Linked DNA regions of Homo sapiens: region 2 is linked to region 1. The links come from fine-mapping of genetic effects on gene expression. A gene starts in region 1. The other region holds a variant in brackets. All regions are shown on one strand. Distances are from middle to middle.

Region 1 (5,378 bases):
AACACAAAGAAATAAGTGTTCAGGTGACGAATATCCTAAATACCCTGATTTTATTATTACACATCATATGCATGTATCAAAATATCACATGTATTTTGGCCGGGTGCAGTGGCTCATGCCTGTAATCTCAGCACTTTGGGAGGCTAAGGTGGACAGATCACATGAGGCCAGGAGTTCGAGACCAGCCTGGGCAACATGGTGAAACCCTGTCTCTACTAAAAATACAGAAATTAGCCGGGCGTGGTAGTGGGCACCTGTAATTCCAGCTACTCCGGAGGCAGGAGAATCGCTTGAAACTGGGGGGTGGATGTTGCAGTGAGCTGAGATTGCACCACTGCACTACAGCCTGGGCAATACAGAGTAAGACTCTGTCTCAAAAAAAAAAAAAAAAAAAAAATTAGCCTGGTGTGGTGGTGCATGCCTGTAATCCCAGCTACTTGGGAAGCTGAGGCAGGAGAATTGCTTGAACCTGGGAGGCAGAGGTTGCAGTGAGCTGAAATCATGCCACTGCACTCCAGCCTGGGTGACAGAGTGAGACTCTGCCTCACACACACACACAAATCACATGTACCTCATAAATATGTACAATTATTATGTGTTAGCTGGGTGCGATGGCTCATGCCTATAATCCCAGCACTTTGGGAGGCTGAGGAGGGAGGATTGCTTGAGCCTAGGAGTTTGAGACCAGCCTGGGCAACATAGTGTGACCTTGTCTCAACAAAAATATACTAAAATTAGCCAGGCTTGGTGATGCGTCCTTGTAGTCCCAGCTACTTGGGAGGCTGAGATGGGAGGATTGCTTGAGCCCAGGAGGTTGAAGCTTCAGTGAGCCATGACTGCATCACTGCACTCTAACCTGAAGGACAGAGTGAGACTTTATCTCTAAAAATACAAAAGAAACAAAAAATTATTTGTCAATTAAAAAAAAACTGGCAGCTTTCCTAGTTTTCGGTCCTGCTTCCAGCTTAGGAGCAACCAGAGAAAGACAAATATGTGCCCCTAACCAATCACTTGGGATGCCCTGCCCCTTGCTTCCCCAGGCCAACAGCCTCAAATGAGGACATCCCTGGAGGCTTCCCTTTTTTCACTATAAAGCTTACCCACTCCTCTGCCTGACATTGAGTCTCATCCAAATACAAATGATGGTGGCTGACTCCCTTGTTATAGCAAGCTAACAGCCTTTTTGCTTTTCTCATTTTATTGTCTTTATTCCCAGTTATCACCATCTGATCATTAGCCAGTGGACTTTTGCTTGAAGCATGAACCTGTGTATGCAAAGACAGGGCAAAGGTATTCTGATGGATAAGAACAGCCTGAGGAAGTCAGCACATCCAGAGTTAGGCTAAGAGAAGTTTTAGTAGTGTTGTTTACTGTATTATGGAGTGATAAATATGCATTTGTGGAAGACGGTGGAAGACTTTAAATATCAGGCCTTTGTTCTGTGAATGGTGGGAAAATAATGACAACCAGATGCGCTACATCATTTGCGTGTGTAAATGTGGCAAGCTGGATTATTGCAGAAGGCAGATTGAAAGGGTGTTTCCACTATCTCTGCTTTATCTTGCAGAGAATGGAATACTTATGCCTTTGGAGAGGTCTAGAGACCAAGTATTTCTTTTGAATATCAGTATAACATAGGCCCAGTCAGGAGACAGAAACACAGTAAAGAAAAGTTTAATATAAAGAATTATTAGGCCGGGCGCGGTGGCTCACGCCTGTAATCCCAGCACTTTGGGAGGCCGAGGTGGGCGGATCACCAGGTCAGGAGATCCAGACCATGGTGAAACCCCGTCTCTACTAAAAATACAAAAATTAGCCAGGTGTGGTGGCTGGCGCCTGTAGTCCCAGCTACTCGGGAGGCTGAGGCAGGAGAACGGCGTGAACCCGCGAGGCAGAGCTTGCAGTGAGCCGAGATCCACGCCACTGGCACTCCAGCCTGGGCGACAGAGCAAGGCTCCGTCTCAAAAAAAAAAAAAAACCACCAAAAAAACACAGTTTACATTCTAGCTGTGCTACAAAGTTCTTACCGGCAGATTGGTTTAGTGGCAAAATAGCAGACCTGCTGGTGACTCCAATTTGTAGTGTGCTTTTGGGCGAATCACCTCATTCCCCGGACCTCATCTGGAAAATGTGGAAATTATACCGGATGACTGGTAAGGTTCTACGATTTTATTCTGATAGGGTCTGCACATCCTTGTGGTTGCACTTCTATTTTCCAAATGTGTTTGTCTAAGGCAGGCAGACTTTATAACAGAGAAGTACTAGAAAACGGATTCCCTGTGGCTCAGGGAATAAAGTGGGACACAAGAAAAAAGAAAACCGCACCGCACCCAGACTCTCGGCGGGACGCCCCGCCCCTCAACAGTGGCCGCCTCCTCGCGCCCCTCCTTCGCCATCTGCCGGCCGCGTCCCCTCCCGCCGGCCCCCGTCCCCCGTCCCCCGCCCCCCGTCCCCTTTTCAGAGACCTGAGCTCCGCCTCCCTGGACGCGAGGCAGGCTGGGAAGTCGGCCGCCGTAAAGATGGCGGCAAATTGAAAAAGTTGGAGCTGCTCCCGCGCGCGCTCCCGCGCGCGCTGAGTGGGCGGAGCGAACAGGGGGCTGGACAGGTGCGTTCTCGCGGCCGTGCAGAAGCGAAGTAGGGGTAGGAGCGTTTCCGGCTCTCCTGAAGGACGCGGGGCGGGGTGGGGGTGGTGCAAGGCAGGCGCGTTCTCGGCCGTCCTGAAGGGGCAGGATCTTCAGCCTGTGGGCGGTGCTCTCGCCGTGAGCGGGGCCAACGGGCCGTGTTCTCCCTGAAGGGGCGGGGTCTGATCGCTGCGGGTCGGATTCCCTTGGGCCTGAAAGTGAGGATGAGCGACAACCGTGGGCGGGGCCTGCGCTGGGGAAGGTGGGGCCTGGGCGGGGCGGAGGGGGCTCGGGCCCGGAAGTGCGGGTGTGGGGCGCGGCCGGGGCGGAGACTTCGGGCCCGGCTGGCGGGCGGCGCCGGGAGCGCGGGGGCGGCGGGCCCGGGTCGAGCATGTAGCGGCTGCTGGCGGCGGGGCTCCCGGGGCGGGCCGGGCGGGCCGCGGGAGCCGCACGCGGCGATATGGAAGAGGAGGGCAAGAAGGGCAAGAAGGTGAGCGTGCGCGGGGGCGTCCTACTGCTGTGGTCGGCGGGCGGCTGGGTTGAGGGGCCAGGGTGGGGTGGGCGGGTGTTCCTTGGGGCCCGGGGGGGGGGGCAGTGGGCCAGCTGGCGGGGCGGGGCGGGGCAGGGCGAGACCCCGGACAATGGTCAGGTGGGCTTTCGCGGCCGGGCGGGCAGGAAGCGCCGCGCCTTTCCTCTGGCCCGGGCAGCGGCTCGCCCCGACCTCGGCCCCAGACGGCCTTCCCTGCGCGTCGGGACCTGGGGCTGCAGAGGAAGTGGGCCCGGCGAGGGGCCAGAAAGCTGTCCAGGGCTGGAACTGGAGCTAGTGGGCTGTGTGGTTAACGTGGAGACGTTTGCTGCTCACTGGACTTCGTTTTTGGATATCCAGTAAAAGCAAGGGTGGCCTTCACCTTATGGCCAGCTCACTCGTCCACTATCACTCAGACCTAAAACCATTGATTGATTTTAGTGACGCTAGCTACATTTGGCAGTGGGATTTAGGACATAGTTCATAGTCAAACCCCAGTTTATGTAGTTTTACAAAATGTGGCTTTAATTACAGTAAAGGGTTATAGTAGTCGATAAAGAAACATTTTAAGACTGGAAAAACGATGTGGATTGAACTACCATTAAAGTGGAAAATGGATTTTAATAAAATGTATCTTTTTCAAATAAATGCTTTATAATCTTCACGTCTTGGCTATCATTTTCTTTTTGATGTGTGTGTGCGCACTTTTATCCACAAGTTTAAAGCAGACCTCGATAATTCCTAACTATGATTTTACTACCCTGAACTCTGCAGGGAAGTGTCCTTTAATTGACAGCTACTCACCACCTTGTTTGACAGAGTGCCCCATTTAAAAGTCCTGTTTGAAATAGAATGTAGCCAGGTGGCCTTCAGGGAGTCCTGTGGTGCTGGTTCTCTACTTTCTCAACTCATTGTTTCATGTTAGCACCATGCATGTCTAATTTAGGTGCAGTATAATTTGCGGTTATCTACAAAGATGTTTTAAGTCTGGAAAATAGCTCAAGATAGTGATTCAGCCTGCAGGTGTTAGATTAGAGATGCGTGCTGCGCACAGAAGAGGGAGGAGCCAAGCAGTGTAAAAGGAGTTAGCTGGAAAGGAGAGGTGCTAACCCGGTGGCTGCTTAGTAGGGACCATCAGGCCCGAGTGTGGATGATGCTGAGCTTTGCGGAAAGTGAGCCATGTGCTCTGTGGAATGCCGGGATCCAAGAGCGCGCTAAGGACTGATGACCTCATTGTGCACCGCTTACAGGAGTACCTGGCCCATCTACCTGTGTGTGATAGGCAAGGATGGAATTGAGTGATTTTTTTTTCTAGAGCTGTCTATCAGCTTTGGTAGAAACATGAAACACCCAGCAAATAGGGAGAGAGAGAGAGAAGCAGTAAGACTGTTTTTGGGGTACAAGTGAAAAAACAGTAAAATTATCAAGAATTTTCCAGTTGGGTAATGAAAAAATTTAGGCATAAACAGGTTAATTATTAATTTCATTTTCTCACTAGAGGAGATAATCAGTTGTTATGTAGTTGCTTAAGCCAGGGGTTTTGTGTTTTTTCTGTATTCTGCCACTTGTCTTAGCTTGTTTCCTGTAGACAAGCCAGACAAGGAGCTTTGGGGCATGGATTCTTCTCCAGGTCATGACTTAACACTACCTCGTGTACTCTGCCAGTTGCAAGCTGGCAGAACCTTCCTGCTCAGCTACCACATTCAATGTGAGATCACCTCCAGTTTAATAACTTCGGTGGTTAAATCATTCTCATTAAGGTAAATTGCATTGCTCTAAACTTATACACAAATTCAGACATAAGTAGCAGAAGTGCTGACAATAGTTTTATGAAGGTACAGTTTGGACGCTTAAATTCTTCTAAGTTAGCTTCTTCAAAAAATGCAGAATTAGGCTGGGTATGGTAGCTACGCCTGTAATCCAGCACTTTGGGAGGCCAAGGCTCGATCACTTTAGCTCAGGAGTTCGAGACCAGCCTGGGCAACATGGCAAAACCCCATCTATACAAAAAATACAGAAATTAGCCAGGCGCGGCAGCGCTCGCCTATAGTCTCAGCTACTTGGGAGGCTGAGGCAGGAGGATCACCTGAGCTCAGGTGGGCCTTTTTTTTTTTTTTCTTTTTAATCTCAGACACTTGTCTTGGTGTCTGCCAAGCAGTGATTCAGGCTTTTTTTTACCTCGGCCCATTTTCCTCAGGACACAGGAATCAGTGAGTTGGCAGAGAACCTAT
Region 2 (5,378 bases), 28 kb after region 1:
GATGGACCCAGCTTCTGTGGCCTTTAATTTTTCTCATGTTAAACTTTTTACCTTTTCACTTTATGTTCTAAGACAGGGTTGGCAAACTTCATGTAAAGGACCAGACAGTAAATATTTCAGGCTGTGTGGGCCAGGGGGCAAAATTGAGGCCATTAAGTAGGTACTTATATAAGAGAGAAAGCAAATTTTCGTAAATTTTTTTATTGATGAAATTCAAGGTATAATAATTGAGTACAATTTTTTGTAATATGGTTCTACTACTGAGAATGGAATTCTTTTTGGGGGCTAACATTTTGCTTAATCAGGGTTCAAAGTTGGTGATTCCCTTTATCGAATTGGTGGCAAATGTTCATCTGTAAAACATTTGCAGCTGTGGCCATCAGCAGCAGGCAGGCATTGGCCAACCCCGCAGTTCTCCTTCACATCATTCTTTGGGCTCTCCGCTATGTCCTTGTTATTATTCTACGAATTTTTTATTTTGGCAGTCATATTTGTAATTTCTAAGATATATTTCTTGTTCTCTGTTCTCTCTTTTTCTTTTTTTTTTTTTTTTGAGATGGAGTTTCACTCTTGTTGCCCAGGCTGGAGTGCAATGGCGTGATCTCACCTCACCGCAACCTCCGCCTCCTGGGTTCAAGTGATTCTCGTGCTTCAGCCTCCCGAATAGCTGGGATTAACAGGCATGCGCCATCACGCCCAGCTAATTTTGTGTTTTTGGTAGAGACGGGGTTTCTCCATATTGGTCAGTCTGGTCTCAAACTTCTAACCTCAGGTGATCTGCCCACCTCAGCCTTCCAAAACGCTGGGATTACAGGCGGGAGCCACTGCACCCGGCCGTTTTCTCTTTTTCATAGCTATCTAGTCTTATTTTATGGATGCAGTTCTTCTCAAGTGTCTCTAAGTATACTAGCTAGAATGTAGGTTCCTGTGCCTGTCTCTTCCCATTTGTTCTTTGGCTTTTCTCTCTCATGCTGACCGTGGGGATCACTGTGTTTGTGAGGGAAGGTTGGGGTTGACTAGTGTTCAGAGCATGTGGGTTTTCTTTTTAGTCATGTCTATTTCCCTGGAATCCTTCCCCTCCCTGCAGTAGCCAAAATAGAGGTGAGGCTGCTCAGCTGAGTGGCACCTCTTTCTGTATCTCCCTCCTGGTTTGCCTTTTTCCCTTTGAGCCTACCTGAAGGTCAGGGTCAGCTGGTTCTGCCCTGTATAGGCAACTTTTAGGAAGGAGCAATCTGAAATTGTGACTCTACTCTGGTTTTTAAAGACAGAAAGTGACAGTCCAGTTAATACCGGATATTGACTCAAATCTAGTTCTGATGCTGCTTTTCCAACTTTATGACAGTTTCTACATCTGTGGTATATGGAATAATAATTGAAGCACTAAATTTTATTCTGAAGCAATCAGTCTTTTTGGAATCAGGAAATATTAAACTTTATTTGTTACAGGTTAATGAAATAGAATTGTATGAAAGTACCATTTTTATAGCCAAAACACTGTTGAAAATCAGCACTTTGATTTGGTTCAACCTAATATTTAAAAAATTATATTGTAATTGTTATGTTTATTTATTGATCTGTGAATATAGTCACTCTAACCAGATTTTTTTTTTTTTTTTTTTTTTTGAGATGGAGTCTCACTCTGTTACCCAGGCTGGAGTGCAATGGTGCTATCTTTTCTTACTGGAACCTCTGCCTCCCAGGTTCAAGCGATTCTCCTGCCTCAGCCTCCCAAGTAGCTGGGATAACAGGTGCCCATCACCACGCCCGGCTAATTTTTCTACTTTCAGTAGAGACGGGGTTTCACCGTGTTGGCCAGGCTGGTGTCGAACTTCTTACCTCAGGTGATCCACCTGCCTCAGCCTTCTAAAGTGCTGGGATTACAGACATGAGCCACCGCACCCAGCCAACCAGAATATTTAATTAAGTAGCCCTCCCTATTTGCAAGCCATTCTGGAATTATCAGAGTTCTAAGAGCCTTCACCAGCAACAGATCCAACTTCTGCTTTTCTAGATTAGGAAATTTGCCTTGAAGAAGTGAGCTTGGCCAGAGGCACGCTGTTTAATTTCAAAGTGCTGCTGACTCAAACTCATGAGTCCTGGAGGCAGGTAGAGGCACTTGTAGGCTGAGGACCCGTAGAGCCCGGTGTGCCCTGCCCAAGCCCCACCTGGGAATGGAGTTATCTCTGTAAAGATCTTGCTGCCTTTGAGCAAGCACTGCAAATGGGGTAACTGGAACAGCCTTGTCGCGTGTTTCCACCCTTCGTATGAGGCAGGTACCATGGGTCTTCACCAACAGCACGGCCTGTTGTCTCCAGGAAATGGTAGCCCCTCACAGTGCTTTCTGTCTGCTTGTTTAGCTTTGGCATTTGAATGTGCAGAATGGTGGACTTTGAAATTAATGTCCTTCTGTTGACTGCAGAATTTCTGCTGGAAATGCAGGGAGGCTGCTTGTGGGGTTCGCGTGCTGTGGGAAGTAGGGAAAATGAGCTGGTTTACTTTGTGTCTTTTTGTGCATGCAGACTGTTTGGATTTTGCCAACAGTTTCTGGGTGCTGCCTGCTTTTTAAACTTTTAAAAAATTGTAAACAGCTTCAGTGGCTTTGCAGAAGGAAGCTGTGGTTTCTGGTCTTCCTGTTCAGTCATGTTTTTTTCAGAGGGAGGGCTAACATCTGGCCATATTTTTCAACAAATTCAGAAGTGAGTAGAGAATGCATAGTAGCTGTCGGCAGAGGAGGAACCAGAATCTCTCCAAAGAAATTCCTCAAACAGAATTTCACACAGGGTATTCCATGGAGAATGAGGTAGGTGCAAGTCCAGTGTGGAAAGCGCCATTTAGAATGATGATGGTGTGAGTCCCTTGTGGGTGGCTTTCATGGCTGCTTCCCAGGGCTTGCCCATTGTGAGCTAGGGTAGCCCAGTCTCCATGACCCCTGCTTTGGGAGGATGGGGTGGGTGGAGGGTTCATTTGCTGGCTTCCTGGTCTGAGACCCTGTGGCAAGGGGCGTGTATGGAGAAGTGCCGTTCCACCCAGGTGGGGAGTATAGGTTGTTGGATTCATCCATCTTGACTCAAGGAAGAAGAAGCCACAGGTTTTACATCTTCCACGGAGAAGTAATTTTCCTATGGATTTGTGGTCGGGACCCAAGAGCCTGGTTGAAAAATGATGTAGGGAGATGGCCAAGCAAGAGAGCACCCAAAGCTGGAATTTCATCCACGAAGCCTGCAACACTAGTGGGGTTCTGCTTGAGACTCCACCAGCATGGATCCTGGCCACCGCCAGTGTGGCCTCCTGTGGGC[A/G]CTAAGGTGCCTATGCCTTTCTCACTGAAGCAAACAGGCGGTAGTGGGCAGAGCTCTGGTTCCCCTTGAAATTCGCTCTGTCAGCCGGGTACAGTGGCTTATGCCTGTAATCCTAGCACTTTGGGAGGTGGAGGTGGGTGGATCAGGAGGTCAGGAGATCAAGACCATTCTGACTAACATGGTGAAACCCCGTCTATACTAAAAATACAAAAAAATTGCCGGGTGTGGCGGCACGCACCTGTAATCCCAGCTATTTGGGAGGCTGAGGCAGGAGAATCACTTGAACCCGGGAGGTGGAGGTTGCAGTCAGCCGAGATTGCGCCACTGCACTCCAGCCTGGGTGACAGAGTGAAACTCCGGCTCAAAAAAAAAGAAAAGAAAGAAATTAGCCGTGTCCTGAGATGCGGGTGCACACCGGCTGTGTCATACTTATCATTTAGACCTCTCCAGCACCGAGGAAAGGTCCTTTTTCCATTGGTAGGCACCAAAGCACTTAAAAAAAAAAAAAGCTAATCTGTCAACTGACACTGCAGGGAGTGCTGGAAGTTTGTGGAAATTCACATAGGCAGGGGTGCAATGTGGGTGTCCACAGAGGAGTTCTTTGTCATGGAGCTTGTAGGAGGGGATTTGTCGTAGTGCCTCGGATGTGCACCTTAGGCAGTGTGATTTATGAGGATGGCAGGTGTCTCTCTGGGACTATAGCCTATCACTGTCCAGCTGGACAGAATCATCGCTCCAGGTTCCACTGTCTTCTCAGACCCAGGCACTGAGTTTGGTGCCTCTTCCAGTCATTTTCCCTCATTCCTGCTGGGCCCTCATGTGGCTGTGCAGTTGCGGTTTGTCTGTCTCCCTCTTTAGACTGGGGGTTCCCTGGGGGCAGGGACGGTGGCTTCTACAGCCCCAGTGTCTGGCGCATAGTGAATACTCATGAGATGTACTGAATGTTGGCCTTAAGGATACCTAGGCCTTTTTATAATACTTTAAACATCTTTGTTCAGAGGCGGTTTTGTTTTATTAGATAAAACCCACCTTGTAGTTTATTCATAAGGGTTAAATAATTTGCGCAAATGAAAATGCCTGAACCCTGTAGCAGAGACATGCTGGGTACTGCTCAGTGTGACTAAGTGTTCTTCTCTTTCTTCCTTCATAGACTTTTTAGCACTTTCTCCAGAGTAATACTGAGCTCAATGTTTTGCATGGAGAATGCAGCTAGAAGGTATAGCCATACTATTTACTTTGGTCCCCAAGTAGAGGCCACTGTTTCATGAGTCTGCTTTTGCTGGTTCTTTTAGTGGATTCATTTCTCCTTGTAAATTAATAAACAGGTGCCCTGACTTATAAGTTAGTTTCTGAGAATTTGTTGAGCAGATCCAGTTACTCCAGATCCTGTTCACCCAAGTGAGCTGATAATGTTGAGCTTCAGATTTAACAAAACTCAAGACCCGCAGTTGGCATCTGAGGGCCAGCCTTGCCCAGAGCCTGAGCCTTGGCTTTGTGTGAGGAGGGCATTCTCACTAGGTAAGCCCTAGTAGGCCAGATTTAGTTTTAGTTTTTTAACTCAGAAGTACATTTTAGGTTTCCAACTTTAAGAGTTGTTTTAAGCTTAAGACGTTAACTTTGTAAGAATTTGTAAGGATCTAGGCATCTTCCAGAGTGAGTTTAGAAAGTTCTGTATAGTTATCTGAGGTGGCATATATTCCATATGGATGTCTTTGCACAGCGCTGCATGGTGACTCAGAGCCCTGTGTTCCCTCCTCCTGGCTCCGTACTGTGGACTCTGGCAGGTCCCTTCGACCCTCACAGCCTCAGTTTCTTCAGGAGAGACTTAGGCTGGGATAGACTCCACACCTCACTTTGGTGCTGGGACTCCACTCATGGAAGAGAAATAGCACTTAGCCTGGTTTCCTTCTGGGGACTGAATTGGTCCTTTGGTCTCTGAGGTTCAAAGGTGACAAGATCATTTAGTGGTGATGAACAGGCATACTCAATCAAATACATGTTGAATGAAGAATGGTTGCCTGGGCTAATCCCACCTTTTAAATTCTATGTGTCCATCTATAGTACATTCTAGTGAGTTAAAGA

The links.
Region 2: its variant is fine-mapped to the expression of CCM2 in whole blood (TOPMed, PIP above 0.99).

Annotation. Positions count from the first base shown.
Region 1 is chr7:44,997,253-45,002,630 of GRCh38, forward strand. It overlaps CCM2 (CCM2 scaffold protein), which reads left to right and starts at 2,949. Exons shown (of 10, transcript NM_031443.4): 1 at 2,949-3,111. The coding sequence starts at 3,082. It overlaps LOC102723334 (a long non-coding RNA gene), which reads right to left and starts at 2,756. Exons shown (of 4, transcript XR_428139.4): 1 at 2,466-2,756; 2 at 2,028-2,121. RefSeq lists silencers at 2,216-2,265, 2,896-3,425.
Region 2 is chr7:45,024,998-45,030,375 of GRCh38, forward strand. All of the region lies in intron 1 of CCM2 (CCM2 scaffold protein), which reads left to right. Among named protein-coding and RNA genes, the nearest start is that of CCM2, 27 kb to the left of the region's middle. RefSeq lists a silencer at 2,100-2,169 and enhancers at 2,560-2,609, 3,212-3,281. The variant A/G (reference allele first, on the strand shown) is at 3,297.